Linked DNA regions of Homo sapiens. The protein of the gene in region 5 interacts with the protein of the main gene of each other region in a pairwise test. Each region holds a gene or a part of one and is shown on either strand. Other genes may lie near its edges. The genes, in order: EAF2, UBE2W, PPM1K, RFC5, BIRC2, HSP90B1 and BLK.

The links.
Region 1: the proteins of BIRC2 (region 5) and EAF2 interact in binary tests that used the Homo sapiens proteins (3 or more experiments, as listed by UniProt).
Region 2: the proteins of BIRC2 (region 5) and UBE2W interact in a two-hybrid assay, tested with the Homo sapiens proteins (one large-scale study listed by BioGRID and IntAct).
Region 3: the proteins of BIRC2 (region 5) and PPM1K interact in binary tests that used the Homo sapiens proteins (3 or more experiments, as listed by UniProt).
Region 4: the proteins of BIRC2 (region 5) and RFC5 interact in binary tests that used the Homo sapiens proteins (3 or more experiments, as listed by UniProt).
Region 6: the proteins of BIRC2 (region 5) and HSP90B1 come close enough for resonance energy transfer, tested with the Homo sapiens proteins (2 studies listed by BioGRID).
Region 7: the proteins of BIRC2 (region 5) and BLK interact in binary tests that used the Homo sapiens proteins (3 or more experiments, as listed by UniProt).

The regions. Positions count from the first base shown.
Region 1 is NC_000003.12:121,869,217-121,873,709, forward strand, and holds part of EAF2 (ELL-associated factor 2), read left to right. Parts: intron 1-3,320; coding exon 3,321-3,572; intron 3,573-3,772; coding exon of another isoform or gene 3,773-3,828; exon of another isoform or gene 3,829-3,850; intron 3,851-4,493. UniProt on the Homo sapiens protein: Acts as a transcriptional transactivator of TCEA1 elongation activity. Acts as a transcriptional transactivator of ELL and ELL2 elongation activities. Potent inducer of apoptosis in prostatic and non-prostatic cell lines.
Region 2 is NC_000008.11:73,805,476-73,809,968, forward strand, and holds part of UBE2W (ubiquitin-conjugating enzyme E2 W), read right to left. Parts: intron 252-4,493; coding exon 176-251; intron 1-175. UniProt on the Homo sapiens protein: Accepts ubiquitin from the E1 complex and catalyzes its covalent attachment to other proteins.
Region 3 is NC_000004.12:88,274,526-88,279,018, reverse strand, and holds part of PPM1K (protein phosphatase Mn(2+)-dependent 1K), read left to right. Parts: intron 1-376; 5' UTR 377-435; coding exon 436-875; intron 876-1,775; coding exon 1,776-1,876; intron 1,877-2,241; coding exon of another isoform or gene 2,242-2,282; exon of another isoform or gene 2,283-4,092; intron 4,093-4,493. UniProt on the Homo sapiens protein: Serine/threonine-protein phosphatase component of macronutrients metabolism.
Region 4 is NC_000012.12:118,019,193-118,023,685, forward strand, and holds part of RFC5 (replication factor C subunit 5), read left to right. Parts: intron 1-439; coding exon 440-576; intron 577-1,713; coding exon 1,714-1,793; intron 1,794-3,093; coding exon 3,094-3,167; intron 3,168-4,493. UniProt on the Homo sapiens protein: Subunit of the replication factor C (RFC) complex which acts during elongation of primed DNA templates by DNA polymerases delta and epsilon, and is necessary for ATP-dependent loading of proliferating cell nuclear antigen (PCNA) onto primed DNA.
Region 5 is NC_000011.10:102,374,177-102,378,669, forward strand, and holds part of BIRC2 (baculoviral IAP repeat-containing protein 2), read left to right. Parts: intron 1-3,319; coding exon 3,320-3,574; intron 3,575-3,680; coding exon 3,681-3,722; intron 3,723-3,813; coding exon 3,814-4,007; 3' UTR 4,008-4,493. UniProt on the Homo sapiens protein: Multi-functional protein which regulates not only caspases and apoptosis, but also modulates inflammatory signaling and immunity, mitogenic kinase signaling, and cell proliferation, as well as cell invasion and metastasis.
Region 6 is NC_000012.12:103,933,410-103,936,909, forward strand, and holds part of HSP90B1 (endoplasmin precursor), read left to right. Parts: intron 1-546; coding exon 547-878; intron 879-3,500.
Region 7 is NC_000008.11:11,559,729-11,563,077, forward strand, and holds part of BLK (tyrosine-protein kinase Blk), read left to right. Parts: intron 1-1,573; coding exon 1,574-1,724; intron 1,725-3,250; coding exon 3,251-3,349. UniProt on the Homo sapiens protein: Non-receptor tyrosine kinase involved in B-lymphocyte development, differentiation and signaling. B-cell receptor (BCR) signaling requires a tight regulation of several protein tyrosine kinases and phosphatases, and associated coreceptors.

The DNA.
Region 1 (4,493 bases), on a different chromosome or scaffold from region 5:
TCTAAGAGGGAAATTTATGGCACTAAATGCTTACATTAGAAGTGAGGAAAGTTATCATATTAATTAATTTAAGTCCCTTTTTTAGGAAACTAGGAAAAGAAAAGCAGATTAAACCCAAAGCAAGCAAAAAGAGACAAATAATGAAAATAAGAAGTGATATCAATGAAATTGAAAACAGTAGAGAAAATTAATGAAACAAAAAGGCAGTCATCGGAGAACACTGTTGATAAACTTCTAGTAAGATTGATAAAAATGAAAAGACAGAAGGCACAAATTACGAATATCAGGAATGTAAAGTACAACTTCTATCTATAATCAGGAAAGTAATGAATTTACTATAGATCCAGTAGCCATTAAAAGTATTATAAAGAAATGGTAGGCTGGGTGTGGTGGTTCACACCTGTAATCCCAACACTTTCGGAGGCCAAGGCAAGAGGGTTGCTTGAGCCCGGGAGTTTGAGACCAGCCTAGGCAATACAGAGTCTCTACAAAAAAAAAAATTTTTTTTTTAGATTACTCAGGCAGTCAGGCGTGGTGGTGTGCACCTGAGTAGTCCCAGCTACTCAGGAGGCTGAGGTGAGTGGATTGCTTGAGCCCAAGAGGTTGAGGCTGCAGTGAGCCATAATTGTGCCACTGCACTCCAGCCTGGGTGACAGAGTAAGACCCTATCTAAAAAGAAGAGAAAAGAAATATGATAGCTTTGTGCTCATAAATTTGACAGTTTAGAGGAAATGGACTAGTTCCTCAAAAGCTAAAAACTGCCAAAACTCAACTAAGGCGAAGTAAGCAACTTGAATAGTGCTATCAATATTAAATAAATTAAATTAGTAATTAAAAAGCACCCACCCCAAAAATAGCCAGACCAAGAAGTCTACCAAACATTTAAAGAGAATTAACACCAACATTACACAATCTCTTCTGGAAAAAGGAAAAGGAAGGAATATTTCTAAGCTCATTTATGAGGCCAGTATTACCCCTAATACCCAAACCAGATAAAGACAGTACAAGAAAAGGAAAACTATGAACCAATATCTCTGATGAACTTAAACTCAAAAATTATCAATGAAATATTAGCAAATTGAATCCAACATTGTATAACAATAATTATGCAACATGAACAAGACAACATTGCTATTCTCACATTTTATTTAGGAGTATGGATGAGGGTGAGAGGGAGGGTAGGGAAGATACAAGCAGTAAACAAATAAGTATCCAAATGAATTTCAGAAATAAGTGTCTTGAAGAGAATTAAACTAAGCAATGGGGGTTGGAGAATGGAGAAGAAGGAAACTTTTGAGAAGGTTACACTTAAACCGATTCAAGAAGGAGCCAGCCTTTCAGAGATCTAGAATCTTCTCAAGAGACACCATTAATGAAATGAAAAGCCTAGCTACAGACTTGGGGGAACCTGGAAAAAATATTCACAAATGCCAAAAGTGTGACAAAGGGCTCATAGCCAGAAGAATTAGCTATAAAGAACTCTTACAAATCAGTAAGAAAAAGACAAACAAATATAAAAATGGACAAAAGATTTGAACAGGCTTTTCAAAAAAGATATTCAAATGGCCAGTAAGCATATAAAAAAACACTGCTTCATATTATCACATCAAAGAAATGAAAATTAAAACTACAAGAAGATACCATTGTACACCCTTCAGACTCACTATACCAAGTGTGTGTGTGCCCTAGTGAGGGAAGATATGAAGCATCTGTGACTCATACCTTGCTGGTTGGAGTGTAAAATCAGTTTGAAAACTGGGAGTTTTTAATGAAATTAAACCTATGCCTATTGTGACTTGGCAATTTCTCTCTTTCTACCTAAGAGAAATGTGTATATAAGTTCAAAAAGACTTGTAAAGGGATTTTCATAACAACTTTATTAATAATATCAAAAACTGAAAACAACCCAAATATCCATAAGTAGAAAATGGGTAACTAACTTGTGGTATATTTATATAATATAATATAATATAATATCATAGCAGTAGAGAAGAATAGGCTACAGATTAATTCAATAACATGAGTAAATATAAAAACATTATGTTGAAAGAAGGCAGACCAAAAAGTACATGCTGAGTGAATCTATTTGTATGAAGTTCAAGAATAGACGAATAGACAAAAATCTTTGGTAATAAAAGTCAAAATGGTGATTAGTGACTGGAAAAGAGCATAGGAGAATATTCATGGGAATGGAAATATTCTATATATTGATCTCAGTGGTAGATATACAGGTTTTATACATGCTAAAATTTATCTAGCTGTACATTTTACTTTATGGAAATTATGTATTAAACAAACAAACAAAAGATCTGGGTGAAGAATATACCAGGCAGAGGAAACAGCTAGTACGAAGAACATAGCCTGGAAATGGATTTAATGTGGTCAAATAATAGAAAGCCAGTGTGTCTATAATAGGGAGAATGAGGAAGTGGGCTAAAAATTACCAGTTAACTTAATGTAGCAGTGTACTAAGATGATATCAAATGTCAATGTGTTAACTGAGTGTATTATTCACTTAGCATTTTTTGGTTTAAAAAATTTTGTTCAACTATTTGACATTTGTATCATATGGGAAAATATTGACTTAAAAGTCAGTAGATTTGCCTCCACTCATAAATAACTGACAGCTTTTGACATTTCTGGATCTTCATTCCCTCATTTATAAAATTATGAAGTTGTTCTAAATGGTAGCTGAAGACCTTCCCAACTATAATTTTTTTGTGTATCTAGAACTTGAAAAATGCTAAACAAAAGAAGACATCATTATTATTCTTTTTATCTACAGAAATATTTATAGCCAAAGTTATAATGGGAACTGGCTCTTCAAAAATACTTAGAATATTTTAAATCCTTATTAAGGGAGCAGGGGGGAAACCTATAGATGCTTCATCAAAATGTTCTCTAGGAAAACCAGGAAAAGAATGAAGTTCATCTGTTACATTATCACATTATATTATATGTATTTAAAGGAACAAAAAATAATCAGAAGACAGTTTCTGCCAAAATAGATTTTAATTTTTATAGTTTTTCACAGTATTTACTTTATATTTGAGTTACCTGTATACTTAAGTACAATGGTTTAAATAAATGTGGAGTTTAGATTTAGACCTTGTCTATCCCTTTTAGTTTCTGTAATCCAATCATTGAAGTATGGCTTGATGGTAGAAGAGTTTTGTTTTTTAATAAAATGCTTCAAGTACTGTAAATGTATGTTTGATTTTAGTTTCAACAGTTTCTTAAAAACTAATACATTCAATTTTTATTATATTTATTTAGCATTTTTTATTTAACCTATCTATTCATTTCTGTCTTATTTTCAGAACTGAAGGCAGAAGCTAGTCTAATGGACCAGATGAGTAGTTGTGATAGTTCATCAGATTCCAAAAGTTCATCATCTTCAAGTAGTGAGGATAGTTCTAGTGACTCAGAAGATGAAGATTGCAAATCCTCTACTTCTGATACAGGGAATTGTGTCTCAGGACATCCTACCATGACACAGTACAGGATTCCTGATATAGATGCCAGTCATAATAGATTTCGAGACAACAGTGGCCTTCTGATGAATACTTTAAGTAAGTATACATAAACACAGGCAATTGGAAAAGTAAGAATTTATAGTGGAGCCATATTGATTGTGACCTAATATTTGGATAAAGAAAAAGATTCCTATTTTATGCATTTGATACTATTAATAATTACATTTTTATTGAATTATGGTTTTCTTTTGAATCTGTGACATAATGCCTTCTTGGTTTTTCTCCCATCTCTCTAGATAATCTTTCCTCTCACTCCTTTTCAAGTTTATATGATCCTCTGCTCAGTCATTAAAGTTGGAGTTTCTCAAGGCTTACTTTTGGGTTCTTTTTTTCTTTTCATTCTACAATTTCTCCCTAAATAACTTCCTCCATGTTTCTGTTGCAGTCAATACTTATGTGTAGGTAACTTGCAAATTTATATCTCTGATTCAAACCTCTAGGCTTTAGACACATGTTTAACATCATCTCCCATCATCTCATCACCTTCAAATTTACTTTGTCCAAAACCAACTCATAATCAATCTTTGGCTCACTGTGTTACCTCTTAGTGAAGGTAGCATACATCTAATTATGCAAATCATAAGTCTAATTATTTTCAATGGCTGAAGTTCTTCCTCTTTACAGTGTAGCCACTCCTTCATCAAGTCCTATTTGTTTTGCCTCCTCTATATTTCTCAAAGTCATCTGCTTCTCTGCATCTCCACCACTATCACAGTAGTTCAACCTATTATTTCTTGCCTTACCTACTACAATGACCTAACTGGTTCACCCCTTTATGTAGTCAAGCCCATTTTTGATCCATTATGTACACTGTAGCCATATTGATTTTTTTCACAATTCTAATACAATTTGTCATCTCTTCTGCTTTATACTTTTTAATAGCTTGTAATTTCTTTTAATATAGAGGCAAAACACCTTAACATAATCGTCTTGATTTTTCTTTTCTAACAACATGTG
Region 2 (4,493 bases), on a different chromosome or scaffold from region 5:
AAAAACTAGGGTAATTCATCCATTAAATATATTAGAATATTTTAAAGAATTTTCTTCATATAACATAAATATAACACCAATTATAGCTTCTCTTCTTTTTCCCAAGTCTTATAGCAAATATATATAATCTTCATATCAAAATGCTAAAAAGTTATTACAAATTCAAACTGCTTACCATGATACCACCATTTTGTTTTCTTTGGATTCTTGTTACATGTTCGCACATAAAAAGAATTATCCGGTGGTCGTCTCTGAAACAAAAAATAATTTAAATAGGTTGAAAAACAGAAAAACTGAGAGGGTGACAGTTTTAATAAAAGCTTAAGAAAAATTAACAGAATGCATAAAAAACAATATAAACATGAATAGTATATCTAAAAGAATAAAAACTATAAATGTATTCCAGGAAATGTGTATGCTTAACACCTAAATTTAAAAAAGGAATAATAAGCGTGTTTGAGTGTGGTCTGTGTTAGGTTCTAGCCTGGCCAACATGGTGAAACCCAGTCTCTACTAAAAATACAAAAAAATTAGCTGGGCATGGTGGTGCGTGCCTGTAATCCCAGCTACTTGGGAGGCTGAGGCAGGAGAATTGATTGAACCCGGGAGGCAGAGGTTGCAGTGAGCCAAGATTGTGACATTGCACTCCAGCCTGACAACAGAGCGAGACTCTCGTCTCAAAACAAACAAACAAAAAATTAAATAAATTATAAAGGGAATGAAAAAGGACTGATGAGAAAAGTCAAATTCACATAATAATTTAAACATAGCCGGGCGCAGTGGTGGGCATCTGTAATCTCAGGTACTTGGAAGGCTGAAGCAGGAGAATTGCTTGAACCCAGAAGGTGGAGGTTGCAGTGAGCCGAGATGGTGCCACTGCACTCCAGCTTGGGTGACAGAGTGAGACTCCATCTCAAAAAATAAATAAATAATAAAACAAAGGGCCAGGCGCGGTGGCTCACGCCTGTAATCCCAGCACTTTGGGAGGCCGAGGCGGGTGGATCACGAGGCCAGGAGATCGAGACCATCCTGGCTAACACGGTGAAACCCTGTCTGCTAAAAATACAAAAAAAAAAAAAAAAAAAATTAGCCGGGCGTGTTGGCGGGCGCCTGTAGTCCCAGCTAACTCAGGAGGCTGAGGCAGGAGAATGGCGTGAGACTGGGAGGCGGAGCTTGCAATGAGCCGAGATTGCGCCACTGCACTCCAGCCTGCGTGACAGAACCAGACTTCGTCTCAAAACAAAACAGAAAAGTCTACTAAACTAGATTTGTTGGGAGAAGTATAGCAATGTACAAACCTCCACAAAGAACTGTTTTTACTGTAATAGAATACCATCAAAGATAGACCAGAAGATTCAGTTTCTAAACAATATTTAAGAGAAAAAATGGGAAAAATATATATTGGCATTTCTACTATAATTGGCCTTTCTGCTGAACATATGCCCTGACTAGAACAATATATGAGAAATATATGGCAGCTCCGCAAGGGAGCTACCGCAGATAAAGTGATGCCAACAACACTGAAGATATATTATGGAAGAGACTTTTCCTGAAATTTGTTGCATACTGCCTAGACAAAAGAAAATGTTACCCTCTACAAAGACTTGGAAACATCAAATTTATATTAAAGCTATATTAAAGTTTATAGATACTATGATAGATATCCTTATCCTTTAGTCTCCTTTATGCCTTTCGGAATCATTCCAATAACTTGATTATTTTCCTATCATTAAATATTGTATAGTGTATATGCAGGATTTATTTTCAGACTTAAATCTGCTTAGCTAAGCTAATGAAAATGAGAGATTAAGGGAATCCTCTCCTCTACCTGAGGCTAATGAAAATAAGTGAATTTGGTATGACATCATTTAAGGAAAGTCTAACCAGAAAGCAATCGTGAGTAGGACTCTGTGATAGCAGGAAGGAAAACAGTTAGTCCATTTGGCACTTCTAAAACTCATATATGTAACTATCAGTCTAGTTGAGCCTCACAATGCTCTTATGTGTTAATATTAGTAATTTCATTTAACAAAAAGAAACATTAGAGCATAAGACAGTCAAGACATTTAGGTATTCCAAGTCAATCTGTGGACACAATTTGAGAAAATTCCTAAAAAATGAATATTATGAAATTAGATGCCTGACTACTTCAAGGAAGGGATGATTCTACAAAGTTAAATCTATGTTCATATGGAATTGGTACTACTAGAGCAGATACTTTCACAAACTCATTTTATGTATATGTTGATTAGAACCCAAGAATCATCAGAAAAGTCTTCAAAAAATACATATTTAGAAAAAAGAAATACTCAATTCTATTTGCTTAAATCATTTATCTCCCTGACAAATGATCAGGGAGATACAGTTCTTGGAAAAGAAACTATACAAAAGAAGTCTTACGAAATTGTTTTAGGAATGGGATACAAACTGAAAAGTTTGAACAATGTAAATATATTACAAAGGCATGCAAATAAAGTGGAATTTACTGAAAGTCCTGTGATCTCAATATCAGAAATTATCTTTAATCCACTACAATCTAATGACATACTGGATTTAAATACCTTCAGTTTATGGAACCACTCCTGACTGTGTAAAAGGAAATTGGAATAGAAGAATTATGACTAAAGTCCCAAACACCTAAAGTAAAATATTTAATAGTAGTAGAATTAACAAAGTAAAGCCCATAGAACCATGTCCACTACGGAATAAAATTTACCCGTTTTAATAATAATAAAACGTGTAGATGGGTATTTAAAATACTTTTCTTTTTTCTTTTTTGAGACAGAGTCTTGCTCTATTACCCAGGTTGGAGTGCAGTGGCGTGATATCAGCTTACTGCAACTTCAGCCTCTGGGTTTAAGCAAGTCTTGTGCATCAACCTCCCAAGTAGCTGGGACTACAGGCATGCGCCACCACGCCCAGCTAATTTTTCTATTTTTAGTAAACAGGGTTTAGCCATTTTGCCTAGGCTGCTCTTGAACTCCTGGCCTCAAGTGCTCCACCCTTCTCGGCCTCCCAAAGTAGTAGGATTACAGGCGTGAGCCACTGCACCTGGCCTAAAACACTTTTTAAGGTTTCTTTGGAGCTTAGATCTCTCTAATGCCAGATCGTCTCAATGCCAAGGCAAATTTCCTCTTCATCTTTGTAACTTATCACTTAGCACAGTAAAAGTAGCACATACTAGGTACCTAGTAAATGTTTTTTGAATTTTATCGTATTTCATGGAAATCTTGATTTCTGTATTATCATCTTGGTTAAATATTATACAACTATTACAGTAAAAACATAGTTTATTAGTGCTTTAAATGGAATGATTAGTCTTATACTAAGTGTACAAGAAACACTAGTAGCAGACAACTAGAATGTAAGGGGAATGGTGAGGGTTAGAGGAAGATGAAGGAAGTACACAGAATATAGTCATTCTCTAGTTTTTAATAATAAATCATTATATTTAAATGTAAATAAAATCTAATAATCATGAGGCACATGCAAGACTATGTACAGATATCGCTGACATTAATCTCTTAATAACTTTCTTATTAAATACTGTTGTTACCGTCTCACCTTTCTATAGTCTTTAAGCGTAACAGGAACATAGAAGGCCTTGTACCCACAAACTGCTTTGCCCTACACATAAAAGTTTAAAACGTGTGTGTGTGTTGGGGGTGGGTGAGAGGAGAAAATATAACAGCAATAAGCAACAAATGAGTAAAAAAACAAAACAAAACCAATTTAACCTATTATTTCACATGCTGTGGCTTAGAGTGCTTCAGATTCTAAATAACCTATCATTAAAAAATGAACTATTATCTTAAAAGTTCTCCAAATACTAATTTAATAAAAATGACAATCAGTTCAATTTGGAGAAAAGGAAAGAAAACTGTAAAACACAAATAACTCCCTAACCTCTAGGGCAAAGCTGTTTCTCCTTTAAACAGAATGCAAAAGGAAAACCCTCATAGGGATTTAAGAGGGGTTTTAAAATGTAGAAATACATAAATGTTATGCTATACTAACCCTTAAGCAGGAATGACAAGAGTGTCAGAAGTGTACAGAGGATTCAGATACATTTAAAGGGTATCCTAAATTTATATGTATATTTTAAATTTATTTCATTATTATTTTCTTGAGATGGAGTCTCGCTCTGTCACCCAGGCTGTAGTGTAGTGGCATGATCTTGGCTCACTGCAACCTCCTGGGTTCAAGCAATTCTCCTACCTCAGTCTCCTGAGTAGCTGGGATTACAGGCATATACCATCACACCCAGTTAATTTTTGTATTTTTAGTAGAGACAGGGTTTCACCATGTTGGCCAGCTGGTCTCGAACTCCTGACCGCAGGTGATTCACCTGCCTAGGCCTTCTAAAGTGCTGGGATTACAGGTGTAAGCCACCGTGCCCAGCCTACATTTTAAGTTTAATTAAGTGATTTTTTTTCTTTTTGTTTTTTTTCCCCCCACTTCCATCAGACATAGAATCTGTGGATTAATAAAGG
Region 3 (4,493 bases), on a different chromosome or scaffold from region 5:
ACTCCACCCCATAGCCACTGGGTCAGAACATGCATTTTAACAAGTGATTGCAGGTTCAAGTTTAAGAGATACATGTTCTGTGTATGTGCACACTGTTAAATTTTTATAGAATTTAAATGCTGTGAATGCGGTAGGAAAATCGATTCATTTTTGATCCACTGTTCTTAGAAGCAGGCTACTGGATGCCTACCCAATATATAACATAAATATATGTATTTTCTGTCAAATCCTTTATGAGCTTCATTTTTGGTAATATTTGATGACATATCAGTTATATTCAAAATTTCTGATGGTCTCTCTCTCTCTGTCTCTCTCCCTCTCCTCCTCTGCCCCTCTCTCCCTCTGTCCCCTGTGACTTGCATCATTTTTCTTGAAGACATTCCATTATTGTTCCATTGACCTTTCCCTCATCACTGAGTCCTTTGGAGCTGAGTTATGTCAACAGCTGCCTTAATTACTTTGGTCAGAAGTGGTGGGAACCAGGTGAGAAGGAGAGTGCTGCTAAGCTCCCGCCTGCTGCAGGACGACAGGCGGGTGACACCCACGTGCCACAGCTCCACTTCAGAGCCTAGGTGTTCTCGGTTTGACCCAGATGGTAGTGGGAGTCCAGCTACCTGGGACAATTTTGGGATCTGGGATAACCGCATTGATGAGCCAATTCTGCTGCCACCCAGCATTAAGTATGGCAAGCCAATTCCCAAAATCAGCTTGGAAAATGTGGGGTGCGCCTCACAGATTGGCAAACGGAAAGAGAATGAAGATCGGTTTGACTTCGCTCAGCTGACAGATGAGGTCCTGTACTTTGCAGTGTATGATGGACACGGTGGACCTGCAGCAGCTGATTTCTGTCATACCCACATGGAGAAATGTATTATGTATGTACAATGACTTTCACTCCTGACTTTGCAGTTCCTATACTTCCTACTTAAACTTTCACCCTTTGGCTGAGGCTTCCAGCGTAAACATAGTTACTTGAGTGGTTGCATGCTGCTGCTTCACGAATGAGCAGTAGTTTAAGTGTGCCATTTATTACTTATGGTTATCACAATTTCAGAAATGCATGTTTTAACAACTCCCCTGGGGAAAGCATTAACCAAAATCTATAGCACTTAATTTGTGATCATTTTAAGTGAAGTGGCATAATGTACATGAGATAACCTATGAGAAGCATTTACTCCCATCAGTGTAGGACAGATAAGTGCTTCAGTAAATGGTAATTACTCTTTCAAGTGGTGTGAATAGCTTTGAATACCTGACTTGTTGAAAATAGCTTTGGATGATTGGCATTAGTGTGGAAAAATGCATTTAATGCAGGCATTTTGGAGCTCTTCCGTTTATTTACTTCAACTAGTATTAATGCATTTTTGAGGATCACATTACTGCTAAAATTGAAAGAGGGAGAACATGTGATGGAGTTACGACCATGTGACTATTTTTGACTTCCCAGTGACCATTTCTTGACTTCCTGTGTATACCGCATTCCACGAAAGAACTCACAATGGGAAGGAACTCTCGACCTCTCAGGGTTGTGGTAGTGAGGATCAATTCTTCAAGGACAAGGACTTGGACTTTCATTGTTGTGCCCTTAAAAGCTTATCACAGTGCCTGATACTTTGTGGATTCTCAATAGGTATTCCTTAGCCAGTAGGTCTTCAGCATTTGACAGGAAAATCCTGAGGCCCGTTGTGTGGAATGACTGCTAGCTAGAGTAACAGTGAGGAGAAAAACCTATTGTAAAATGATTGTTTAAGGCTCTTTTTTTCCTCCCCACAAAGGGATTTGCTTCCTAAGGAGAAGAACTTGGAAACTCTGTTGACCTTGGCTTTTCTAGAAATAGATAAAGCCTTTTCGAGTCATGCCCGCCTGTCTGCTGATGGTATGTAAAACTATCACATTCCTTGGATCCTAGGGAGTACATGGGGTGGGGGAGGAGTAAAAAGGAAACACTTTAAGTCCTTTGGGGGAGGGGATTTTAATGGACAATTGTTTGTAAGGATTTATGTAGAAATGAGTTTATATGAAGAATCACATTAAATGCTGTTGGGAACTCCAATTAATGTTAATACCTCACTTTTAAATGAAATATATTGGAGAATTTTTCAGAAAGAGAAGCCCCGAAACAGTTCTGATGTTGTACTTTAGTTTTTAAAAGATTTTAAAAATGTTTAATCTGTTTGCTTATTTTATGGACAAAATGTCCATACTATGAGTTTTGTTTTGGGTTTTTGGTTTTTTTTTTAGATGGATCTGGTGACCAAGTGCTGAAATACACTACAGGGTAATCACATCTAGCGAGGACAGTCATTGTCCAACAAGAAAAAAATTGCAAATAGGTCCTAAATAGAAAAAGACAATGGTTAATATGCACTAATTTGTATAACTAGAAGGAAAATATTTTTCTGTCACTTCTTAAAAAGCTCAATCTTGCAGCTTTTCTCTGGTAACTAGTGATATTTTCAGCATAAGGTCATGCTAGCTGAATTTAAAATTTTGTGTACTGTATGTCCTTAAATTTTGAAAGTGAAATGTTTCTGGTTTTGACTAAATTTATCAAAACCATTTCACGAAAATTCAGCAAACGTTTTCTAGTTAGCTAGTCCCAAATCTTTTGCTGTTAAAGTTAACCCTGAAAATTTCTGTACCAGCCAAATGAATGTGTGCATGTAACCTTGTAAATGATTTGAAAATGAATCATGCAATAATCTTGATCTGTATTTGGTTCATCCTTTTCTTAAAAAAAAGAAAGAAACCAAGTGCACCACAGAAATGTCATTTGCACAGTCTTCAGTTGGAATACATAAGGATAGAGATTGTTTGCATTTCACAGCGAAGGAACTGAAGATTAGAGTGGTAAAGGTCAGTTCAGAGTTAGGGCTGGGATTTTCCTGACCACCAGCATTATCTCTCTTCTCTCATGAGGAGAGGAGAAGGTAACTCTGCGATGGCTCTATTTACCATCTTGAGATTTTTTCCTGAGCTTTTTTTGAGAACCTTACTATCACACTCCTCAGGAAAGCATTACAGTCCACTCTCTTCAGGGATATGTTTTCCAGTTTGTAGATCATTTAGGCCCATTTTCTTTTCTTTCATTCCTTTGGAATTTTTCTTTTTCCTTTCAACTGGACCCTTACCTTTAAGAAGACAGAAGCTGAAAGAGGTAAACTTTATGCATAAGACTTAGCTCTTGTTCCAAATAGTTAAAACACATGAAGGAAAAGAGGAAATGAAATATTTTCTTATGGTTTTATTTTTATTACTTCCTGAATTTTGGTATGCTCTTATTTCATAGTAACTGAGTTGGCTGTGCATCTGGCTATGTCTCACACCACAATGTTTGTTGACTGTAGTGTCGGTGGTGTGCCCCAGCTGTTCTGTAAATAGCTGCAGCTTACTGGGCAAGGTTTTTGGATGAGAATGTCCAAATTTATCCCAGGCATGTGACCACCAACCAAAAACATTGGCCTTCTCAATGCCATCAGCCTCTTTTAAAAGTATCTAGTCAATGTAGATGCTTAAACCAATCGGTGATTGACTTGATGTAAAATATGACAGGACTCCTTTTATTATTGAATGAAGTATAACTCAACAGAATTTTGAACTTAAAGAATTTAATTAACTTGCCTATCTTAAAAGAAACTTTCTAAAGATACCTTTGTCACAAAAACATTAAACAGTTGTATAAAGAAATTAATCACAAAAATGTAATTCATATGCTAACTTCAGCAGCACATACACTAAAATTGGAATGATACAGAGATCAGCATGGTCCTTGTGCAAGGATGGCACACAAATGCATGAAGAGTTCCATATTTTTTATTCTTACTAAAATCAATTCATTTGTAATAAAGAAATTAAAATGCATTATTTAATTTAATTCCTCTATCATATGCTTTGAAGTAATGATCCCAGAACATTCTTAAGATATTTTAAAATGTATTTTTCATATAATGGTAATTTGTTTGAAAGTATAATGGAGCAAGACAAGATGATGCTCTTAGTGTGTACTAAAAGAAAAGGTCTATTATAATATTGTTATTAAATCTTATTTTGTTATTAAATTTGTTATTTGTTATTAAAATCTTATTTTGTATATATTCTTATCGGTCTGTGTTTTTTAAAAATTAGTGTTTTGAGAACATTTAAAAATTTTATTCTTGATAAGTTGCCAGAGCCTTCAAAGATGGCAAAAATTGTCTTGATATTTAGGGCCTATTTTATCAAATACATTAAAGCCACTAAAGATAGAATGCCATATGTTGTGTAACTGTTCAGTTTATGGATTTTTTAAAATGTCATTTTAAATTTCAAAGTTATTATTTAAGTTTAAAACTTTAGTTTTTAGCAAGAACTGAAGCAGTATCAGTATTATAAGAGTGGATAATATTCTTTTCGGCCTATGTATATAGATAGGACCAGTGCCAGTGAAACAAAATTTTGTAGTAAGTGCAGTTTACCCTCTCCAGTTTCTTTCATCTTTTCTCTTTTAGTATTAA
Region 4 (4,493 bases), on a different chromosome or scaffold from region 5:
TTGGTGATGTTGTCTCTCCTAAGTAATAACTTCAAAGAATCTGATTGCGCTTTGTAGAATGTGGCTTTAAGATCATTCATTCATTTTCTTCAGGTTGCTACAGTCCAGTGGGTAAGTCACAAACATGAGCATAAAATTGCAACACAGTGGAGTAAAAATAGCATTACGGAGAATCATTTAAGTTCACAGATGTTGCCAGCACCCAGAAAGGTGCCTGTAACACAGTAGGCACTCAATAAATACTTGTTGACTGGCTGCGCTATTGAGTGAATTCCAGTTGTTCCACGAAAGTAGATATGAGGCCCCTACATCAAGTTGTATCTGCCTCTGATTTGGACATTGAATTGGGTTGAAGAGCTTTCAGCCCAACTCAGGAGCCCAGGGTGAATGAGGCAGCTCCCAAAGACTGATGGTGCCCTTCTTCCTTCCTGATCCTCAGTTCAGAAGTTTATCAATGAAGACCGACTGCCACACTTGCTTCTCTACGGTCCCCCAGGGACAGGCAAGACATCTACCATCCTAGCCTGTGCGAAACAGCTATATAAAGACAAAGAATTTGGCTCCATGGTCTTGGAGGTAAATAAGATTGTTCTTACTCTACAAATAACTTAAGAGACTCCAGTCTCTTAATTTCAGTTCTGCTGGTTTTATTTTACTTTAAAAGTAAGTTGCCCCACGGACAGTTAGGAAAGAAGTAAATTTGAATATTTTAATTCCCTTTTTCCTATAATGGTCATTTTGGTCTGGATTAGCGTTGGTCAGCTAGAGGGCAGTTGTAGGGTTTGGCACCTTTTTCTTTGCTCTTGCCAACTTCTCCCCAAACCTTACTTTATGGTGACTTGGTTGCTGCCTGTCTGCCATGGCCCCTCTAGATCAATTCTCCACGTTTCTCCACCATATTCCTGCCTGGAAGGCTGAGCCCTACTGACTATAAGCTCACTTACCCTCTGGCTCCTGGTTGGGTTTGGCCAATAGGGGCCTTGGCAGGGGTGGGGGAAGGAAGTGAGTGATGCCTGGGCCTTCCCTGGGGGCTGACACAGGCTGGCAGCATGGCCCACCTGTAGGGTACATCTCACAGGTGGTACCTTTCCTGCAGCCCTCTCCAGGTGCCTACAGCCACTCCCTTCACTAAGCCCTTCAGGCTCAAGGGTGACAGGTATTGCATAGCCCCATGGTTTTCCTATATCACACCTTTAAAAAGATCTTGTTTAATTCTCTTCAAATTGCTGCATTTGAGTATGCCATCTGTATATTGCTGGGACCTTGACTAATATACTTAGATTCAAAAATCTGAGTATTGTCTATTGCAAGAAAAGTTTAACTTACTTTTTAGACGCAGGTCTCAGAACTTTGCTGCTACTAATGTCCTTATTTCAGTTTATTAAGAACTTGGTAACTTAGGATTGTGGTAGCTGAAATTTGTATCATTCTGCTCATACCAGAGGTGCTGTTCAGTGTAACCATACCAATTAATTATTTCTCCAATTTATGTCAGTCATTGTCCTCAAAGGGTGGGGGTAATATAGCCATCTTTATTAATTTAGTGAATTTTGTGTAAAACTGATTTTTTATTTTATGATGATCTCTTAGCCATCATTAGACATAGAGAGCTAGCCTGCTGAGCTGGACTGATGAGGAAATACACTAACACCAAGAACTCACAGATAGCACAGCAACATGGTTTTTGTTTTGTCTTCTGTCTTCCACATTTAGCTGAATGCTTCAGATGACCGAGGAATAGACATCATTCGAGGACCGATCCTGAGCTTTGCTAGCACAAGGACAATATTTAAGTAAGAATTATTTGTGTAATTTCGCTCCCTTGATTTTGATTAGTAAGATGATATGGGTTAATTTTTTAATCCTCTCCTTAGCCAGTTTATATGGGTTGAAAAAAAAAGTGACTTTGTCCAAAGCAACCATGGAAAAGAGATAAACGAGAGGGATGGTAGTAAGAAGCGTTATAATGCAACTGTTAAAATAAAATGTTATCTACGCTTGTATTAGCAAGTTTGTTTTTTTTTTCTTTTTTTTTTGGAGACAGGGTCGCCCTGTATCGTACAGGCTGGAGTGCAGTAGCATGATCTCGGCTCACTGCAACCTCCACCTCCTGGGTTCAAGCGATCTTCCAGCCTCAGCCTCCTAAGTAGCTGGGACTACAGTCGTGAGCCATCACGCCCAACTAATTTTTGTATTTTTTAGTAGACATGGGGTTTTGCCATGTTGCCTAGGCTGGTCTCGAACTCCTGAGCTCAAGCAATCTGCCCGCCGCAGCCTCCCAAACTGCTGGGATTACATACGTGAGCCCAGCCTGCATTACCAAGTTCTTTAGGGAGCATTAACTTCATTTTTAGTTCCTGAGAACTGGCTAGATTACCCTAAGACTGGATGAGCTAGTTTGAATTTAAAAATAAATTGAGATCAGGAAGGACAACTAGGATGGTGGCTAAAAAAAAAAAAAGAAAGAAAGAAAAAGGGTGAGGGCCGGGCGCAGTGGCTCACACCTGTAATCCTAGGACTTTGGGAGGCCTAGGCAGGTGGATCACCTGAGATCAAGGGTTCAAGACCAGCATGGCCAACATAGTGAAACCTCGTCTCTACTAAAAATACAAAAATTATCTGGGCATGGTGGTGGGCGCCTGTAATCCCAGCCACTCAGGAGGCTGAGGCAGGAGAATCGCTTGAACCCAGGAGGCAGAGGTTGCAGCGAGCCAAGATCGCGGCACTGCACTCCAGCCTGGGCAACAGAGCAAAAACTTAGTCTCAAAAAAAGCAAAAGGGTGAGGGACTCAGGCATGAGTGAGGGAGACGGGAAAAGCAGTAGCATGGTAGGGTGCCATGTGGAGGAAAGTGAAGATGCCAGAGGACACAGCGCACAGAAGTAGAGAAGTCTCCTCCATTCCCACCAAGGGTTGAAGGAGTGATGCGGCATTTCCTCTCTGAGTGACCAAAGATGTCTGCCTTGGCCAAAGTTCTAGAAGAAATTGTCTTTCTGAGACAGGGCCCGATGGCACAATGGGAAGATATAGGTTTGAGCCCAGATGTTGAGATGAGATTGAAGAAATCTTTAGACAGCACCATTTGTTTTTCTAGGAAAGGCTTTAAGCTAGTGATCTTGGATGAAGCAGACGCCATGACTCAGGACGCCCAGAATGCCTTGAGAAGAGGTAAGCAGAGGCACTGTGGAGCGTTTGGGCTGGTGTGCACACTGGAAGGAGAATTAGGAACTTTGTGTTTGTTGCTGTTGTCATTGTTTTTTTAGGCGGGGGGGAGTTTTTTTTTCTTTTTTTGAGTCAGAGTCTTGCTCTGTCACCCAGGTTGGAGTGCAGTGGCGCAATCTTGGCTCACTGCAGCCTCTGCCTCCTGGGTTCAAGCGATTCTCTGACCTCAGCCTCTTGAGTAGCTGGGATTACAGGCATGCACCACCACACCCGGCTGATTTTTATATTTTTAGTAGAGATGGGGTTTCACCATGTTGGCCAGGCTGGTCTCGACCTCCTGACCTTGGGTGATCCGCCCGCCTCGGCTTCCCAAAGTGCTGGGATTACAGGAGAATTAGGAACTTTAAGCTTCCCAAAGTGCTGGGATTACAGGAGAATTAGGATGTGAGATATGGCTTGGCTTGTTTTCAGTTTTCATCTTCTGGCCCAGAGAAATCTCTATGCCTTTCTCTGTGTCTCCCATCTAATGACACAGGCTAGATACCTCTGTAGCGGGACTTCCCCTTCAGCAGCCTAGGGACTAAGCCCTGCGGGGACTTTTAAGTCTGGCCAGTCACTGGTGTTCAACCTCCTTTGACACTGGGTTCAATTTCAGAGTTGGGAATTCATATCTTTCCGTGGGATGGGGTGTGGAAAATCTTTCATCCTTAAGCTATCAGATAGTCCTTCTGCTAATAGTACCCTCTCCTTTCTACTAATGGTACCCTTTGAACCACAATGGCTAGGAAAAGCATATCTGAAGTTGAGGTGCTCAGAGAGCTGATATTACTTCACTGCTTGCCAAGTGAATGATTTGGCAGCGGGAGGGACAGCACCCTGCGATTTGTCTGTCTTCAGGGGCCTAGCGCAGTTCTTTTCTCTTAAAGGACACTTGTCATCTCTCATTAAGATTCCAAGTGAATCAGCTTTGAGAGAAGAACGATCTTTAGGAGTTTGTGGCGAGGGAGTAGATGGCAGCACATGTTAAGAGAAGGATGGGGGAAGGGGGAGGAGGAGGAGGGGGGAGGAGGGGAGGAAGAGGAGGGGGTGAGGAGGAGGAGGGGGAGGAGAAGGCGGAGGAGGAGGGTAGGGGGAGGTGGAGGAGGAGAGGTGGGGGAGGAGGAGGAGGAGGAGGACAGCGAGAATATCTTCTGGTCCTAGAAGCTTGGCAGCCTTTCTTCGGCATCTTGTTCTGCCGAGTGACTGTCATTCTGGGCAGATCCCCATGTGAGAACATTGGGTACCTACAGAATGGAACCGGTGTCATAAGCAACTCTTTGTTCGGGTTATTGC
Region 5 (4,493 bases):
CATTCTCCATCCAGCTTTGTTCCGTTGCTGGTGAGGAACTGCGTTCCTTTGGAAGAGGAGAGGCGCTCTGCGTTTTAGAGTTTCCAGCTTTTCTGTTCTGTTTTTCCCCCATCTTTGTGGTTTTATCTATTTTTGGTCTTTGATGATGGTGATGTACAGATGGGTTTTCGGTGTGGATGTCCTTTCTGTTTGTTAGTTTTCCTTCTAACAGACAGGACCCTCAGCTGCAGGTCTGTTGGAATACCCTGCCGTGTGAGGTGTCAGTGTGCCCCTGCTGGGGGGTGCCTCCCAGTTAGGCTGCTCGGGGGTCAGGGGTCAGGGACCCACTTGAGGAGGCAGTCTGCCGGTTCTCAGATCTCCAGCTGCGTGCTGGGAGAACCACTGCTCTCTTCAAAGCTGTCAGACAGGGACACTTAAGTCTGCAGAGGTTACTGCTGTCTTTTTGTTTGTCTGTGCCCTGCCCCCAGAGGTGGAGCCTACAGAGGCAGGCAGGCCTCCTTGAGCTGTGGTGGGCTCCACCCAGTTCGAGTTCCTGGCTGCTTTGTTTACCTAATCAAGCCTGGGCAATGGCGGGCGCCCCTCCCCCAGCCTCGCTGCTGCCTTGCAGTTTGATCTCAGACTGCTGTGCTAGCAATCAGCGAGACTCCGTGGGCGTAGGACCCTCCGAGCCAGGTGTGGGATATAATCTCTTGGTTCGCCGTTTTTTAAGCCAGTCTGAAAAGCGCAATATTCGGGTGGGAGTGACCCGATTTTCCAGGTGCGTCCGTTACCCCTTTCTTTGACTCGGAAAGGGAACTCCTTGACCCCTTGGGCTTCCCAAGTGTGGCAATGCCTTGCCCTGCTTCGGTTTGCACACGGTGCGCGCACCCACTGGCCTGCGCCCACTGTCTGGCACTCCCTAGTGAGATGAACCCGGTACCTCAGATGGAAATGCAGAAATCACCCGTCTTGTGCGTCGCTCACGCTGGGAGCTGTACACCGGAGCTGTTCCTATTCGGCCATCTTGGCTCCTCCCCTCCTTCAATAAATATTTGTTGAGCATGAGCACCAGTGCCAAATACTGTGCCTAATCACAGTGGTTGCTGTCAAGGAGTATATACACTAGCTGGCGAGACTAGTGTGCAAAAGACAGGGTTAAAGGGCCAGCAGAGAGGCGAAGGTTGCATATGTATTGGAGTATTGCGTTGGAAGATGCTTTCTTTTTAAGCTTGTAAGTAAAGACAGGAATAACTTAAGAGTACCTTATTGCATGACCGTGTAGCAAAATATTTAAAGTCTGGACTTCTACATTGAAACAGATTTGTGTTTAAATTCTAGCTCCAGGCTGGGCGCGGTGGCTCATGCCTGTAATCCCAGCACTTTGGGAGGCCAAGACGGGCGGATCACAAGGTCAGGAAATTGAGACCATCCTGGCTAACACGATGAAACCCCGTCTTGACTAAAAATACAAAAAATTAGCCGGGCATGGTGGCGGATGCCTGTAGTCCCAGCTATTCGGGAGGCTGAGGCAGGAGAATGGCGTGAACCCGGGAGGCAGAGCTTGCAGTGAGCCGAGATCGTGCCCCTGCACTCCAGCCTGGGTGACAGAGCCAGACTCCATCTCAAAAAAAAAAAAAAAAAAATTCCAGTTCTATCAGTTACTAGCTTGGCTATTTATTCAACCAGACATCGGCTTTCTCATCTGTAAAATGGGGATAATAATAGTATGACTCCCATAGGGTTGCTGTAGGAATTAAATGAGATATTGCAAATAAAACACTTTAACACAGCTCCTAGCACGTCAATTTTTTTTTTTTTTTAAGCATTAGGTAGATTGACTTGGGAAGTGGGAGGGACTTGGTGAAAGAAAGGGCCTAAGAAAAGTCAATTTAAGGATTGTTAAGTAGTAATGAAATCCAGCTAAGGTTATATGAAATCACTGTCACCTTAGATTTATGACTTTCTCATACTTTGTATGGGTTGGAAAATAGTATTGAATTACAGATTTGGCAGTGTTAATAGGGGAAAGGGCAAGTAAGGAATACGGAAGATGAGTTAAGGGTGCTAATATAGAGAACTTCATTGAAATACCTGACTGCTACCTAGATTAGAATAGGAGGTTTGAAGCAAAGCCAGGAGATAGCTCTTGTGCAAGTAGAATTGGGAATGACATGGAGATCTTGAAAAGGTGAAGAACAAATTGGTTAGCAGTGAGAGGAATTATTTAGGTAGAAGAAAAAGTTGTCACAGAATGGAATTTTATAGTTTTGAGATTAATAGAGCAGTTCACTTCTAGAGAGATGTAAAAGGGGAAAGAAGATAGGCTTCTGTTTTTATAATTTATTTCTCATTAAACTGGTACTTTGTAGAGATGTACTTTTTAAATTTTTTTGAAAGTCTGAAAATAGACAAATTTTATAATGATTCAGATACCAAAAGAAGGAACTACCATATTCCATAAATATAAATTAACTGTGGAGTTTTATGTGATGCGATATTAAAGGAAAAACATTGGCTTTTTAAAAAAAGGTCAGGCTTGATTCTTAGGTAGTTTTTTTTAATTGCTATAAACATAGACATTTATAAAATAATAATGGTAGTTAACTATGTACCACATATTGTGCCAGATGCTTTACATGTATTATTCAATCCTTACAACTTTGAGGAAGGTACCGTTATGTATATTTTACAGATGAGGAAACTGAGGTGTATGGGGAAGGATGAGGACACATAGCTAGTGAGTGGGCCTAGCCAACACTGGAACCTAGGTCTGTTTTGACTTGGCAACTCAAACCCTACAATACTACAATACCACGTCTTAAGTATGGGGTGTTGAAAAGAACACTGGTCTAGGATGCCTGGTTCTGCAGCTTATTCTTTCTTGTGATCTTAGGCCACTCATTCTTTTCTGAGTCTTTTTTCTCCCTATGTAAAAATGAGAGGCAGTAATACTCGCCTTGTTTAATTGACAGGATCACTGTATCAAATGAGACAAATTACTATGAAAGTGCTTACAAAAGTAAAATGATATAATGGAAATACAAGAGTATTATTATATATGGTGGGGGGAAATTTTTACTGTCTTCTACAAATCTCTTGCAACAAAATAAAGTAAAAGCGGAGTTCTAGGACATGTAAATATATAGACTTAAAAATTAAACAGAGACTTCCTCTGGAAGTTTTCCAAACAACAAACTTACAAATGCAAACAAGTTACTTTGTTCTTTTTTGAACTTTATTTAGTGCCTAAATTGTTTGTAGGGTTGGTTATTAGTGACTATATGAGTATAGTTAAAGGAGTTTAAAATCTAATGGATTTCTTTTTCTTTTTTTAATGAAGATGATTTGTCATTAATTCGGAAGAACAGAATGGCTCTCTTTCAACAATTGACATGTGTGCTTCCTATCCTGGATAATCTTTTAAAGGCCAATGTAATTAATAAACAGGAACATGATATTATTAAACAAAAAACACAGATACCTTTACAAGCGAGAGAACTGATTGATACCATTTTGGTTAAAGGAAATGCTGCGGCCAACATCTTCAAAAACTGTCTAAAAGAAATTGACTCTACATTGTATAAGAACTTATTTGGTGAGTTTGTTGGGAAAATTATTTTAGAAATTCTTAGGACTGGCCAGATGCGGTGGCTCAGTTTTGTATTTAGTAGAGTAATGGTTTTTATGTTTTCTTTCCTCAGTGGATAAGAATATGAAGTATATTCCAACAGAAGATGTTTCAGGTAAAACAAAGATTTAAAACCAACATGAACTATTACCCTTTTTTTTTAATGAAGTGGAAACAATTTCACTAAAGTTATTTTTTGTTATTAGGTCTGTCACTGGAAGAACAATTGAGGAGGTTGCAAGAAGAACGAACTTGTAAAGTGTGTATGGACAAAGAAGTTTCTGTTGTATTTATTCCTTGTGGTCATCTGGTAGTATGCCAGGAATGTGCCCCTTCTCTAAGAAAATGCCCTATTTGCAGGGGTATAATCAAGGGTACTGTTCGTACATTTCTCTCTTAAAGAAAAATAGTCTATATTTTAACCTGCATAAAAAGGTCTTTAAAATATTGTTGAACACTTGAAGCCATCTAAAGTAAAAAGGGAATTATGAGTTTTTCAATTAGTAACATTCATGTTCTAGTCTGCTTTGGTACTAATAATCTTGTTTCTGAAAAGATGGTATCATATATTTAATCTTAATCTGTTTATTTACAAGGGAAGATTTATGTTTGGTGAACTATATTAGTATGTATGTGTACCTAAGGGAGTAGTGTCACTGCTTGTTATGCATCATTTCAGGAGTTACTGGATTTGTTGTTCTTTCAGAAAGCTTTGAATACTAAATTATAGTGTAGAAAAGAACTGGAAACCAGGAACTCTGGAGTTCATCAGAGTTATGGTGCCGAATTGTCTTTGGTGCTTTTCACTTGTGTTTTAAAATAAGGATTTTTCTCTTATTTCTCCCCCTAGTTTGTGAGAAACATCTCAATAAAGTGCTTTAAAAAG
Region 6 (3,500 bases), on a different chromosome or scaffold from region 5:
ATTATAATTAAAGGCTCAGCCTGAAAACAGAGCTCTCCTTTACAACTCATTGGCCATTTATAACTCATTGGCCAAAACTAGTCACATGGCCTTAGCCATTCTTAAATGGAAAGTAGAGTACTCCTAAGTTTCTGGAAGGCAGACAGCCAGGAATATTGAGTGAAGAATATTAATGATCCATCACAGATTCCAAATAGAGGAATCATTCAAGTTGTTTTGTATTCTAGTAAAGAAATAGGCAAGACATAAAATTTTATTTTTCTTGAATTGTTTTCCTTCAAAGGTAACTTGTTTTATTTAGGTCAGCCTCTAACCTTTGACATTTAGGCCAGTCTGCCCATTTGATATTAATACTTTCTCAAATACATAAATTACTTTAAGATGTACACTTTCAGAAAAGGCCATAAAAAACTATGTGGAGGAAAATATCTCAGTTTAGTTTTCTGTATTGGAATTGATGGGACCCAAAGCTGGTTAGTTCCTCAATATTTGTTTGGCATAATGTAAATATTAAATACAACTATCTGGTTCTTGTCTTGCATTTAGTGTGATAAGGAGAAGAACCTGCTGCATGTCACAGACACCGGTGTAGGAATGACCAGAGAAGAGTTGGTTAAAAACCTTGGTACCATAGCCAAATCTGGGACAAGCGAGTTTTTAAACAAAATGACTGAAGCACAGGAAGATGGCCAGTCAACTTCTGAATTGATTGGCCAGTTTGGTGTCGGTTTCTATTCCGCCTTCCTTGTAGCAGATAAGGTTATTGTCACTTCAAAACACAACAACGATACCCAGCACATCTGGGAGTCTGACTCCAATGAATTTTCTGTAATTGCTGACCCAAGAGGAAACACTCTAGGACGGGGAACGACAATTACGTGAGTATGACCAATTCCTTATAAGAATTAATAGTCATGGTGAGGATCTTGACTCTCCAGTTCTATTCTCTGAGCAAATGACTTATTCTGGGCCTTAATTTTCCTGCCTTATAAAATGAGGAAACAGAACTGTTGTCACTTGAAGAAATGTTTGAGGACCTGCAAAGGGCCAGGCACAAAGGTTTGTGATTGCTGTTGTACATGGAGGGTATAAAGTAGGAAATAGCAGCAGCTTCCCCAAGGGAGAAGGCTTCTTGGGTACCCACAGAGGAGGCACTGCTTGGTCAGTTTCCCAGGTTAGAAGAGTAATTTGTCTGTGGAGCATCCTGAATAAAGGCATGGAGGCATAGCATGCTCACTAGATGAACAGAGTTCTTTTCGGTGGCAGTTATGGATAGAATGTGATGAACTTTTATTTATTTATTTATTTTGAGACGGAGTCTCACTCTTGTTGCCCAGGCTGGAGTGCAATGGCACAATCTTGGCTCACCACAACCTCCGCTTCCTGGGTTCAAGCAATTCTCCTGCCTCAGCCTCCCAAGTAGCTGGGATTACAGGCATGTGCCACCACGCCCAGCTAATTTTGTATTTTTAGTAGAGATGGGGTGTCTCCATGTTGGCCAGGCTGGTCTCGAACTCCCGACCTCACGTGATCCACCCACCTCGGCCTCCCAAAGTGCTGGGATTACAAGCATGAGCTACCGTGCCCAGCCAGAATGTGATGAACTTTTTAAGATTCTCAAGGTGGTGTGGAGGATGTGAGGAGTGGACAAGGGGAGACTCTTTGGGGGAAATATTCCTCTTGAAAATATTCAAGATGAGTGGTAGCAACCAGGGCTGGGGCTGGCTTGTAGAGATAAAGGGCTTAAAGAAAGTTCATGAAAGTTGTGAAAGCTGTGGAATAAAATACGTCATTTAAGGATAGTTACAAGTTTTTAAATTTGAATTAAGATCCCTCTTAAGCCAGTAACTGTTGTTTGTATGGGTGAGACAGAGCCAGTGCCCTACAGTAGCTCTCGTTGCTTATAGCACTGTGACGTAGACAGGGCAGCTTTTTGCCTTTTTAAAATTTTACCATCTTGGAGATGAGGAAATTCTATTTCAGAGGTCAGTTGGCTTGCCAACTCCTGCTAAGTGAGTAACAGAATGTGCCCACAGCTTCAATTTTTTTTTCTTAATTCAGTTTTAAGTTTTCTTAACATTAAGGGAAAGAAGCACATACTTATCATTGTGACCAACTTTCTTCATCCTAGAAAGTAACATTTCCTGTTTTTACTGCAGCAGATGTTCTTTTAATGAAGACTAATTAGATGACTGCATTTTAGTACTTTTTTAACTTGTGTTCCCAATTTACCTTCCCCTGCCTTCGTCACTAACATTGATGTCTCCAGGTTTCATTTGGAGGCATCACTAAGAGTTATGCCCCAGTGCCCTCTCTTTTTAAGCACTGGGCTAGATGTTGGAGAAGGATAGGGCAATCATTCCCAAGGAAAGATAGAAAGTGATGTCCCAAGAGATGTTAATGTCAGGTTGCTAAGAAGCAGGTGAAATTATCTGGATATAAGCTCCATGAAGGCAAACATTTTGTTGGAAGCTCCATTCCCAAAGCTTAACACTTAATTGGCAGCCATTTGTATGAATAAGTGAGGTTAAACAGGACAGTTCCATGCAGGGAACGATGGCTGCTAACACCTATCCAGGACCTAGTTTCCATGACCATGCATATCTTTTTAAAAATTTCCTTTGCCCACTTCTTAAATGTTAACATACATTTTCTCCAAGTTAAGTTTCAGCCCTTTTCTCATTGTCCATGTGATCTTTATGTAGTCTTATCCACTGCCACGGCCTCAGGTTCCATCTCTAGTTCTCAAATTTATATTCTTAGCCTAGATCAGGAGTTAGCAAACTTTTTCTTAAAAGAGCCAGCTAGTAGAAAAAAAGATAAAAGAAAACAACAAGAAAGAAAGAGCCAGCTAGTAAATATTTTTAGCTTGTGAGCTATATGGTCTGTCACATGTCCCAACTCTGTTTAGCTTGAAAGCAGGCATAGACAATACATAAGGATGTGTCCCAGCCAAGTGTGGTGGCTCATCCCTATAATCCCAGCACCTCGGGAGGCTGAGGTGGGAGGATCACTTGAACCCAGGAGTTTGAGGTCAGCCTGGACAACATAATGGGATCCCATCTCCACAAAAATAAAAAATAAAAAATTAGCTTGGCACAGTGGTGCATGCCTGTAGTCCCAGCTACTCAGGAGGCTGAGGTAGGAGGATTGCTTGAGCCTGGCAGGTCAAGGCTGCAGTGAGCCATCATCACGCCTGGGTGACAGAGGTCCAAAAAAAAAAAAAAAAAAAAAAGTGTCCCAATAAAATTTCTAATGGGTGCCAGCTGTACAGCTATAGCTTGCCAGCCCCTTGTCTAGGTCTCACTACTGGGCTCTGTGTTCATGTGTTTAATTGCCTTTTAAATGCTTCTACCTAAGATATCTAACCAGCAGCTTCTACTTGCATCCAAAACTGAACTCTTAATCCCCAAATCACTAGAACATGTGCTCTGAGACCAGGGGCCTAGTCACTCACTAGGCTTTGTCATATCATGGCTACTTATTGGCCAGGTACCACT
Region 7 (3,349 bases), on a different chromosome or scaffold from region 5:
CATGCCTCGCCACCCCTCTACCTCCTCTGCCCAGGAAGCCTTGAACACTTCCCACCTGGCAGAATCCTTATCATCATCCATGGCTCAAGCGTAATGTCATTTCTATGAAGGTTTCCCTGGACAAGAAACTGCCAGAGAGCCCTTAGCTCAGGTGTTCCCGGAAGCACTGTTCTTGCTCAGCAGATCTGGGCAGCTTCTTCTTGAAAGCAGATCTGGGCCCTACTCAACATTTTTTAAAATATATTTCTGGTACTGTTCAATAAATATTAGTTATCAGAACGAGTACTGTTAGATGCTGCCCAGATATATTTAGTACTCAGTTTTATATTCCCCACAGTCCCATATTAGTAAATGAGTATTGATTGCATGGTGTAGCAAGGGGATGGATGGATGCATGGATGGGTGGATGCGTGGGTGGGTGGGTGGGTGGGTGGGTGGGTGGATGGATGGATGCATGGATGGATGGATGGATGGATGGATGGATGGATGCATGCATGGATGGATGAATGGGTGGATGGATGGATGGGTGGGTGGGTGGGTGGATGGATGGATGGATCCATGGATGGATGGATACATGGAAGGATGCATAGATGGATGGATGGATGGATACATGGATGGATGCATGGATGTGTTGATGGATGGATGGGTGGGTGGATGGATGGATGCATGGATGGATGGATGCATGGATAGATGGATGGATTCATAGATAAACCAACAAAATGCAAGCATAAGGAGAAGTGGAATCAATTCTAGTGCTGGCTTCTTGAAGTCGCATGTCTGAAGAGGTAAATGGGGTCTCTGCTTTCTGCCTCAGTTTCTTCGTCCATTGATTGGGTGAATAAAGCCTTAGTTTCCTCAGCTAAAAGGTGCCAAGTAGCACCAGCTGCTATCCCTGGCCCAGGCTGGTGATCAGGGGAGGAGAGACAAGTCTCTTCTTCTTCACAGCCTCTGTCCACCTGGATCTGCCAGTGCTCCCTGGGTGCCCCCACGGGGCAGGCGCTGGGTGAGGTTCTTGGTCACAAATCAACCTCGTCTAATGCTTGCCTCAACCCCCTGCCCTGGAGACCACATCCCTCATGTTCCATGTCAGGACTGTGGCCCCTCGGGGAGGTTAAGCAGCTTGCTAGAGGTCAGCGACTTCCCGAGGGCCTCCAGCTCCAGGAGCTGTGCTTCCAGCCAGCCAGTGAGAGCTGCCTGTCCTTGCCTCCTGCTCCCCCTCCCCCTCCTTCCTTACCATTTCTTCTCTTCTCCCTCCCTCTCCTTTTCTCCTGCCTGTGTTCTTCTATCTTCCATCTCTGCAGACCCTTGGACACAGCTGTGTGGAGCGAGAACGAGGAGGGGGAGGGGCACAGGTAGCCCCTGTGTCTCTGATGCCCACGTTGCTGCGTTGCTGTTCTGGGCTTCTAGGAGAGGAGTTTATTCGGCTGAGGAGCAACACAGTCACCTTTCTACTCCATCCAAGAAACAGCTCCTTCCCCAGCAGCCCACAGGGGCTGTGCGGGGGACACAGTGTGGGCTCGGTCTTGGCGTGGAGGCCCCCAGGCTGTCCTTCACCATGTGCCTGTTCCCTCAGATTGCTGAAGGGATGGCATACATTGAGCGCATGAATTCCATCCACCGCGACCTGCGGGCGGCCAACATCCTGGTGTCTGAGGCCTTGTGCTGCAAAATTGCTGATTTTGGCTTGGCTCGAATCATCGACAGTGAATACACGGCCCAAGAGGGTAAGCACAGCCCCTAACCACAAGGGAAACCTAGGGCCTTATCTTTCCCAGCTCCTCAAAGCCGCCTTTAACTTCTCCCAGCACAGCCCTGAGGGAAGACACCTGAGGGCTATACGGTTTCTACAGCTCTAGATCAGCATTTCCTTCATTTACCCAAATGTGTTCAGCAGAATGGTAGTGCCCTGAGACCTCCCATGGAGGAACAGCTTTAGGATAAGGTAGGTTTGGAGAAACAGCAGTCCACCCTACTCCCTGTCTTGGAGATTCCCAGTGCACATCAACATATTAAAGGCACTGAGAAGTCCTGCAGCAAAGAAACAGTTTATGTTTGCCTCACCTAGTGCCTCCCAAACTAATTTGAGCTCCAAATACTATTTTTTTTTTTTTTGAGATGGAGTCTCTGTCACCCAGGCTGGAGTGCAGTGGCACAATCTTGGCTCACTGCAACCTCCGCCTCCTGGGTTCAAGCAATTCTTCTGCCTCAGCCTCCCAAGTAGTTGGGATTACAGGCGTGTGCCACTACACCTGGCTAATTTTTGTATGTTTAGTAGAGATGGGGTTTCACCATGTTGGCCAGGCTGGTCTCGAACTCCTGAATTTAGGTGATCTGCCTGCCTTGACCTCCCAAAGCGCTGGGATGACAGGTGTAAGCCATGCCCAAATACTATTTTTATATAGTCCCTATTAACCTTCCATGGAATTAGGCTTTCACAGAGCACACTGTGGGAAACACAGCTCTCATGTGCGATCAGCAAACCAACCTGTATTAGGGTGTCCACGGAGCACTGTTTTACTCTGTGCATATAACTGAGGTGGAAATCTACGTCACAAGAGAATCTGAAGGGGTCACATATATTTATCAAGCTAGCAAGCAGTGTCTGCTGAGCCTATGAGTCAGATGACAAGCAGACAGGATATGGCTTGTTCTCTCGGGAACTTCAGGCTGGCTGGGGAGACCGAGAAATGGAGGCCAGGGGAGGCTGTGAAGTGCCAAGCCCTGAGGTCTGCTCCAAATGCTGGCCGGGGCTGCAGCCATTGAGGTGCTTCACAGGGCAGCCGGATGTGAGTTCTTCCTCATAGCGGCCCTCGGAGGTACAAGTGTCACCATTTCCATTTTGCAGGAAGGGACTAACGGAGGCGCCCGCAGGTTTAAATGGCTTGCCCAGGCCATGTCTTTTAAATTAAACAAGGCCCCTGTAAGGTGAAACAGGCCCCTTCCATCCCAGGTGGAAACGTGGTGGCTGCCCATTGAGGCCATCGCTCTCTTTTTAAAGAACCAAAGTGGGTGACTGTGTGGTATTGGTGTCCATATCGTCTTTCTGTGCTGCTGATGTCGTGTCTGCACTCACCTGGTCATGTGTCCTGGTGTGCGGTAGTGGCTCCCCCGCCATGCCTGGCCGCCCCGCCCTGTGAGGCCCCGCAGTGGGGGCTTGATGGAAGGACAGCAGGAGCAGGGGTAGGGGTGAGGATGGAGGGTAGGGGCCACCGGCCGTGGCCTCCCAAAGCTTGCATGGCTTTTCCCACAGGGGCCAAGTTCCCCATCAAGTGGACAGCCCCGGAAGCCATCCACTTCGGGGTCTTCACCATCAAAGCAGACGTGTGGTCGTTTGGAGTCCTCCTGATGG